Regions from separate parts of the Homo sapiens genome. Here all the other regions are linked to region 3. The links come from fine-mapping of genetic effects on plasma protein levels. A gene starts in region 3. Each other region holds a variant in brackets. All regions are shown on one strand. Distances are from middle to middle.

Region 1 (2,761 bases), 890 kb after region 3:
ATCACAACTTCTAATTAAAAGTTCTTTGAATCCCCCAAATCCACATTTCTTTACTTGTTACTTTTATTACTTGGGTGTCCTTGATGTTACTGGAACTTGCTAAGCCATGTAGGTGCCACTCCTGACCATTGAAAACAAGTACAGTCACTTTGAATGATCATACTTTTTGGCTCCAAGTTATATTGGAAGGAGTTTGTAATGATTTGAGGATTGCAGAGCTGATCTGAGATGAATTTCATGTGTGAGCTTCCATCCCAAGTGTGGCTGGCTCTTGGCCTCAGAGAACTGTACTTTCCAGGATGTAGAGGATTGTTCTAGCTAGTTTTGGAACTACCTGCAGCTGATAATTCATTTTTCCAAAAGGCCTAGAAGATGCCAAATGTTATTCCTTTGAGGGATGAATGGAGATCCTGAAATAAATAATTTCTGAGAATTAGACAGCTAATGACACTGAATAATACTGACTACCATAAAAAACAAAACTGCTTTTCTTCTGATGACACTAACTGTAGTCAGAAGGTTCTAAAAATGTTCTTTATGTCAACACACCAGGATTGGTGCATATGCTCCAAAGTTCACCTAAAAGTTTATTCACCTAAAATGACTCAATTTATTTGAATGTGTAAGTTCTAGGTTTGCAATTGCTTTTTAGTCAAATTGCATGCATGGGTTATTACTTATTTTTAAAATGTCACCAGAGTGGACCACTAAAAAAAAAAAAAGTACATTTAAATTACAGAAGAGAAAGTTTGGATTGAAGTGAGAGAAAAAAAAATACAAAATCTTCACAACACAATTTTAAAATAATGAACAAGCAAGCTACCGATGGAGATCTTCATTTGTCAAACATAATCTGCCTCAACATAGCTGTCTCTTTCCACTGGGCTCCTGGACACACTCGAAGCCCATCCTTACATACTTCTTTAAATGTCTGAAACTGATATTGCATGGAAGTGTCTAATAGTAATTTTAACAAAGAATGCCAGTAACTTCAAATGAGCTTTCAAATAAGCTCAAGTACATACAAAAGTGGCCTAATTACAGGCTGTCTACCAGGAATGTGCATCTCTACCTGTGTTACTTTAGGTGGTAATTATTATCAGAAAACATGATATTTGCCTATTAGAACACAATTTCACCAGGGATCTGGAAGGAATAAGTTTTGTTTTTAAGCTAGGTTTGCTGTATCAAGAAAAGCAGTTTAGGGTTTTGGCTTTTTTCTTTTTCTTTTTCTTTTTCTTTTT[T/CTTTTTT]TTTTTCCAGACAGAGTCTTGCTCTGTTTGCCCAGGCTGGAATAGCGCAGTGGTGCAGTCACAGTTAACTGCAGACTCAACCTCCCACTCAACCAATCCTCCCACCTCAGACTCCTGAGTAGCTGGGACAACAGGCACATGCCACCATGCCTGGCTAGTTTTTTGCTTTTTAATGAGGTTCTGAAATGCTACCTCACTATGTGCTATATTTGGTGATCTGGCCACATTTTGTAAGATTTAGGACAATGTATCTGATCAACTTTCTTCTGTTCCCATTTCCTCACCTCCAAAAACAGAGGTAACACCTGCCCAGGCTTCTCTCAGAGTCATTGGCTCCGTCATGATAAGAAGGGCAGTGAACGTCATTGCTGTACACACAGTACCTAGAACATAGCAGGTGTTCAATCAATTTTGTTGAATGAATCATTTATGTGAAAATGCTTAGAAAATGATAAAGAACTATAAAGAGTAACTATAATGTAAATGGAAGTCTAAGATGATCAATAGCAAACAAACTTATCCTCAGGATTAATTTTATGTGTCAACTGGGTGGTAAGCTAAGAGCCCCACCTCACCATCTCTACTCCCACCCCAAACAGAAAAATTGTTGTGCCCAGAGAGAGATTTGTGCTCCATTCCTTTTTTGCTACAGGATTCCCACCTGTCAAAATGCAAAATACGTGTACACTTTCAGGTGTAGCTTGGCACTCACATGGGAATGTGAATTACTTCTGAGAGCACTTTTTGGGAACATGTATTGATGGGACAGTAAAGGGCACCTAGGATATCCAGACAGTGCAGGTGAAGTCTGACTGCTTTATTACTTCCCAGCTGGGTTCTGAGGACAAACTTTAGAATCTTGTTAAGGGCCATTTTTTATATCCAAATAATCAGAAATGGATCACTCTGGAAGCAGAACAACTTTTGAGAGCAAGAGTGGAGGCAACTCACACTCTCACTGAGTGTTTTGATCATAAGGTATGTTGCACCCAGAGTGAAATAAAAATTTTAAGCAAATTCTGTAATGTTCTTTAAAAGCATTAATGTACTTTCCTTAATATTGCAAGCAATACCCATTCCGTCCAATCTTCCTGGCAGTCGTGTTACTCTCATGCTTGTATAAGCATGAAAATCAATTTAAATATATTCAGTAAAAACCTAAACCCTTCCCTTTTAAAAGCAAATATCTGATTTTTCTTTCAGAAGCAACCATTTTTACGGTATTTATTCAACTTCTGAAGCCTAATTCTATCCAAAAAATAAGGAGAAAAAATATGCTACTGGCTTCTAATATAGGGCTGTTGTTACCAGAAACAGAATAATACAGACATCTTAGTAAAACCTCAATCTTATTTCCTGAGCCTTTAGAAAAATGCATTCCTCTAAAAACACATTACCCTACAAGTGGCCTTTGGAGAAACTGAAATATTGAAGAAATCCTTGGATTGCAGCAAAGAACATTCTCCGTGGACAATTCTAATCAATTATAGAAACATAACTGTACCCAGATCATGTAA
Region 2 (2,761 bases), 510 kb after region 3:
GGTTGACACATATACAGAAGCCATGGATACAGAGGGCTAACTGAATTTCCTTCCAGGCCAGGACTATGTAATACAAATATGATGCAAGCCACCTATGTAATTAAAAATTTTCTAGAAGTCACATAAAAAGTAAAAATAAAGTTGAAATTAATTTTAACATATTTTATTTGATCCATTATATATTATTTCAACATGTAATCGACATAAGAATTACAATATTTTACATTTGTTTTCTAAGTCTTTGAAATCTGGTGTACATTTTGGACTCATTGCATGTCTCAGTTTGGACAAGCCACATTTCAAATGTCAAGAGACGTATTTAACTGGTGGCTACCCCAATGGATAGGGCAGTTCTAGGTAGTCTATTTTCAGTTCCTCTCTTCTCCCTTAAGCCTCTGGAACTGTGATGGGAATAATCTGTCATGTGAATTCCTAGCACTTATCAGCACCTCTCATTATCACTTGGCCTCCTTGCATTATTTATTTTTGTGATGCATTTGTCTTGTCTCATGAACTAACTTGTAAACTCTATGAAGTCCAGGACCAAAGACACATGTAATCTCAAGACTGGAAATATCTTTAACAAAACCATCAACTAATTATTCTGTTGATGTGTGGCTCCCCTGTACCAAGTCCCTATTAAGTGAGCTTCAGAATCTCCTTGAAGCAAAATTCTGTGGTTGAGGTATTCACACATGCTAAGGTAGGCAATTCTTTGGGTCGTGCTACAAGGGCATCTTCTTTTCAGGATCTTAAATCTGTTCCCTGAAGTTTGCATCACATGAAACAAATCAACTTCACATGATAGGTCATTTCATATTTGGAGAGAGTCCAGTAGTTTTCTCTCTTCTAGGTGAGTCCTGGAAGGTTTAATCAATCCTTCTTCACTTGCCCTGTTTTTGAGTTCTCGTCATCATTTTGCTCTTCCCTGATATAATGCCAGCTTGATTAAAGTCTTCAAATGCTGAACACAGCACTTCAGAGGTGGTCTGACCAGTAAAGACAATAACTGGATCACTATTGGCTGCCTCTACAAAACAGTTCTACCAGGCATCGGGGCACATTACCTTGAGGAAGCGGGAATGGCAGAAGAGAGCCACAACAAACATATTAACTCATACTATCTTTGCATTGTTGGCTTTTAGTCTAGAACTCTTTGCAGATAAACCACACAATTCTTTAGGTTAGTTTTTCTTCGTATCTTCCTATCTTTTCAATCGAGTTAGGGAATCTTTGGGCTTTCTGTTTTTGGAGGAGGTCTTCTGACC[G/A]AAGAGCCGACTTGCAGAGATCACTTTGAGGGAACTAAGCTGAGAATCCAGAAAGCTTATGGAAAACAGGCCTTGACACCAGAGAACCATGTATACTCTCTAGCAGCCAGAGGGCTTTGGCTGAAAACGACGATAGCAACTACCTGTTTCTTCATTCAAATTGCTCTCCTTTCCTTTACCTTTAATAGGAATTATTTCCTCCACATATTTACCTTACAGAGAAGGGCGGGGAGAAGACGCGGCAGACTGAAGTAAATGCAGGGAAAAAACTCACAGGTAGAGAGGTAGAGACGGCAGGCCTGGCCCGTTGCGGGCAGCCAGGGTAAAGTGGAGCGTCCCGCTCCCGCCCTGGGGCGCATCCTCGCCGCCGCCGGGACCTTCCGCCTCTGCTCCTCCGAACCCAGCGGACTAGAGGCTGGAGGCGGGAGGCGGAGCGGCGCGCGCACGCGGGCGGGGCAGAGGGCCCGGAGTCGACGAGTCGACGTGCCGACGTTGGCGCTGCAGCGGGGCGGTGACGTGTAGGCCGGCGCCAGCTCCACTCTGTCCCTCCTCGCCGGGTCTGTGCGTCTTTGCGTCTGTCTGTCTGACTGATGGTCCTCACACGCGGTTCCCTGTGACTGGGCGCGACCCCGGCAAGCGCGGCTTGGAGGGCGGACGGGGCGCGGCGATACAGCTGCCCGCTCGCATCTTTGGCCCTGCGCTCAGCTCCTCACCCGGCGTGGGAAGTTAAAGTAAAACCGAAAGGGAAGAAGGCGCGGTGGCAGGAGCTGACAGAGTGATGGGAAACGCGTGAGCCAGGCCGAGAGGTGAGGAGGTGGAGGTGGAGGTGGGAGGACGAGAAGGGTCGCCGCGGCCAGGGGAGCTGGCTGGAGGCGGGGACGGCGAGGCGGGCTACGCGACCCGCCAGAGATTCTCTTCCTGCCTCCGGGGCAAGTCCCGACCTGTCATCCTTTTCAGTGGCATGAGGTCGAGTCCGGGGTCTCGCAACAATACCGCCCATTCCTAGAGTTTGTAGGTGGGGTTGGGGATAGAAAACTTAACCTAAGCTACATATTGTCCAAGTGTTAAGCCACAACGTGACCAGATGAGGTTTTTCTGTCCCATGCATGGGTAATTTGTTTTCTTTTTTTCTGTTACAAAGCCTTGATAACTTCGTTTTCTTCACGTAGATTTGGGGAAAGAAATCTTCCTCATATTTTTCCCCCAACACACTGGAAAGTAAATAGGTAGCTGACCGTGATGGATTGTGGGTGAATTTCGCAATCAAGGAGCCTATAATGTCATTTTGAAATAAATAAATGTGTATGTGGGTGCTAGGGAGGTTTTGTGAGTACTGGGCAGTCATTTCAAATAGGTTTCTTATAAATTAACTTACTCATGGAATGCAGTGTGCTAATGGTATTTGCTATTCTTTGGTTTAAAAGAAGCATAATTCTAGGGGCTGGTAAAAGTTTGATGTGTTGTCACTTGTGCATTCAAACTCATGGTTACAT
Region 3 (2,761 bases):
TTTTTTTTAAATTTCAGCCTGTGTGATTTTCAATGGGTTTAAATAGGAGAAAACAAACAGATAAGACTTCCAAACATTGCTCAATTCTCTATCACCTTGCTCTTGTGCATTTCAATTTTTTGTTGTTTGTTTGACTCAAAAGTTTTTAAGGCCACTGGAAGTTGATAGGCTGCCTTGGTGGTTACAGGAATAGACTCTATAAAGTTAGAAAGTAATGAACTAAGACAAATCAAGATTGAAATACAATTGCATTTATTTCAGTAACTAAACTGACTAATTAAGACTCAAATGAACCAATCATCTCTCGTGAAATGAAAATAATCATCAATCCATAAGATAATTTCTGATGACAGAATACTTACAGTATGGAGATGAATAAACGATAGAAGATAATCTGTGCATTACCAAAAGGCTACTAATAGTAAGTTTTCTAATATTCCCCATTGCCTAAATTGGAAATTATTCTCTAAGGAGCCTCAGCTCGGTCGTGTTGTTTGGTAAAGAAACTCTATCTCCTTAAAGGTAAAAATATCAGAGGATGTGGTTCGTTAAAAGTTCTTGAGGTTTATGATCCACCCTGGTAACACTGCCCACTCCTTACCCTAATGGGACGCCCTCCAAGTTTTTTCAGAAGCTCTTAATACGGGTGCCGGTTAAAATAAATATACTTCCTCAGCGCAGAACTAAGGAGTAGGGTTAATGGAAGGATGGGTGGGCAGAAGGAGGGATGGGGAGTTCGTCAGACCCGCCGGCAGCCACACAGCTTCTTGCCATCTGTCTCATTCTCTTCGCCTCGCGTGAGTCCCCGTAGCTGAGGCCACTTCCTGACACGTCCACTTCTTAAATCATTTTATGTGGAGAACATAGGCGACTGCAGCCAACAGAGCCACTTGCATGCTTGACGGGAATTGGCTGAGATAAGCCCGACAAAGACTCGCAGTGAATCCGTCCAGCGGGCGCCCCGAGCGCACGGACGTCCGCAGCGCTACTGTTCGCCTTCTTCCTTCTCTCCAGGTGGAAAATGCCCCTCGCCCACCCGCAGTCCCTCCCGTCCTCTTGAAAACAAACACCTCGTGAAGGAGCCCGGAGTGCAGCCCACAGCCGGGGAGTCCTTACCTGGAGCTAGGGGTGAGGTGGGCGGGGAGGGGGTGGGGTGGTCCTCGGGGAGGAGCAGCCGGAGGAGGTCGGGCGGAAAAGTCCCCAGCTACCAGACCGACCAGCGCAGCCGCCGGCGCCGAGCGCGAGTGACGGCAGCGGCGAAGACGGTGACCGAGGAGCAGCAGCGGCGGCGGCGGCGGCAGAGACAGACACGCCTCCTGGCGGGGGTTCCTCGCCTCTTGCTTTAAAGGCGCCGCGCTCCTTTCCCCGTGGCCCCTGCACGCTCCTGGCCGCCGCGGCCACTCGGGGGCATCTCCCACCCCTGGACCACAGGAGCTAGAGCGAGAGAATTCCTGGTGTCCCTAGACTTGGATGTTACGAAGCCTCCGGCTGGACTTCGCTCCCTTAGCGCACACCCGCCTCCTGGGATGGGGAGACTAAGGCCAAGATGCTCTGTCAGGGAGTGAGTGATGCATGCAAAGCGCCGAGGAATTTGCCTAGCCTTGGGTGGTGACAACACATATAAGGAGCCCAAACACATTTGCTTCTGGGTGATGGCTTTTATGCCTCTCCGAAACCATAGCAACGAAACTTCTCCACTGCCAGGGCTTGGAGGGCTGCTGGTAGTCTCCAAAGTGGACCTCTTAGTCCAACTACGGTCATTTCCCTGAGGTTCGCAAAAAAAGATCTTGATCTGCGCACCCTCCCACCCCGACCTCCAGCGCATAGAGCAAATGCGCTCTGGTAGCGCTGCTGCGGGTATTCCCTCAGATGCTGGGAGTCACAGTGCCCTGCTCCCTGCCACCATTATTGAGAACAGATGCTTGGAAATTGACTTTTCCTGAGTGTTAGGAGGTCGGGCGGGCTGTCTCTGTGTATGTATGGCGCCTTAAATAGCAGACTCCCCTCTCCCCACCAAACTCCCGCCCAGGCCCCGGAACTCTCAACCTAAACACATTTCAGAAAGAAGTTGGATTCGAGATCTAGTGGGCGCCGAACCTGAGGTCGCAGACTCCAAGATTGGAGACAGGAGTCTGGGAAGCAGCCCTGGTTTGGCGGCCACTGGTCCAAGTTCTCGGGAGGACTCTTTTAAAGGCCAGAGATGGGGAGGGGCAACTGAGTCCCAGAGTCTTCCCGCAGCTTGGCTTCCAGGGAGGGGCTGGCGGCGGTGAGCGCACCAGGCTCTCCCTGCTTCACTGTGGAAACGATTAGCTTTTGCAAACAATCCCTGAGTTCCGCTCCTCTGGGTCGGAAAAGTCAACATCTATTCAAAACCGTTGCTATTTTATCCTCAGCCCTACAATATTAACTGGAGCTGAGTTTAGCAGTTTCCCCCAGAGGAAGTTGGCCAGCTCAGATTCGCGAGGAGATTTAAGTGAGGCTAAGCGGGAACAGGCCAGGCGCACTGGGCTCAAGAGACCATTTCAAACGGGCTGCATAAAGAAGGGGCCAGGGGGGATTCCACGGCTCTGCAGTCCCCTAGCAGTTCCAGTCCCTGGTGGTTCTCCACTATCTATCTAATTCCGAGGTCCGGGAATTAGAGAGGCTCTGAGTCCCCAGGGACCCGTTGTCTGAGCTGGAGACCAGAACTTGCCCTTTTGCTTCCTCCTTCACTGCAGCCCTAGTAAAGTTAAGCCCTCGCCGGACCCTGGCGCAGCAGGGC

Direction of the effects. Alleles are on the strand shown, and positions count from the first base shown. The strength of an association depends on the size of the effect and on how common the allele is.
With allele T in place of CTTTTTT in region 1, the plasma level of the protein whose gene starts at base 1,246 in region 3 is lower (moderate association).
In carriers of allele G in region 2, the plasma level of the protein whose gene starts at base 1,246 in region 3 tends to be lower than with A alone (strong association).

Evidence for each region. PIP is the chance, under the fine-mapping model, that this variant and not a neighbour inherited with it causes the effect. Protein levels are from antibody-based Olink assays in UK Biobank. Linkage for the fine-mapping came from a reference panel and not from the study's own genotypes, which makes the PIPs less certain.
Region 1: its variant is fine-mapped to the plasma level of the GRIK2 protein (UK Biobank, PIP above 0.99).
Region 2: its variant is fine-mapped to the plasma level of the GRIK2 protein (UK Biobank, PIP above 0.99).

What each region holds. Positions count from the first base shown.
Region 1 is chr6:100,501,035-100,503,795 of GRCh38, reverse strand. No RefSeq gene overlaps it. Among named protein-coding and RNA genes, the nearest start is that of SIM1, 37 kb to the right of the region's middle. The variant T/CTTTTTT (reference allele first, on the strand shown) is at 1,245.
Region 2 is chr6:100,880,374-100,883,134 of GRCh38, reverse strand. It overlaps ASCC3 (activating signal cointegrator 1 complex subunit 3), which reads left to right and starts at 1,806. Exons shown (of 42, transcript NM_006828.4): 1 at 1,806-2,074. LOC107984041 (a long non-coding RNA gene) reads right to left here and starts at 1,678. Exons shown (of 8, transcript XR_007059692.1): 1 at 1,481-1,678. RefSeq lists an enhancer at 1,843-1,962. The variant G/A (reference allele first, on the strand shown) is at 1,269.
Region 3 is chr6:101,392,193-101,394,953 of GRCh38, reverse strand. It overlaps GRIK2 (glutamate ionotropic receptor kainate type subunit 2), which reads right to left and starts at 1,246. Exons shown (of 17, transcript NM_021956.5): 1 at 1,117-1,246.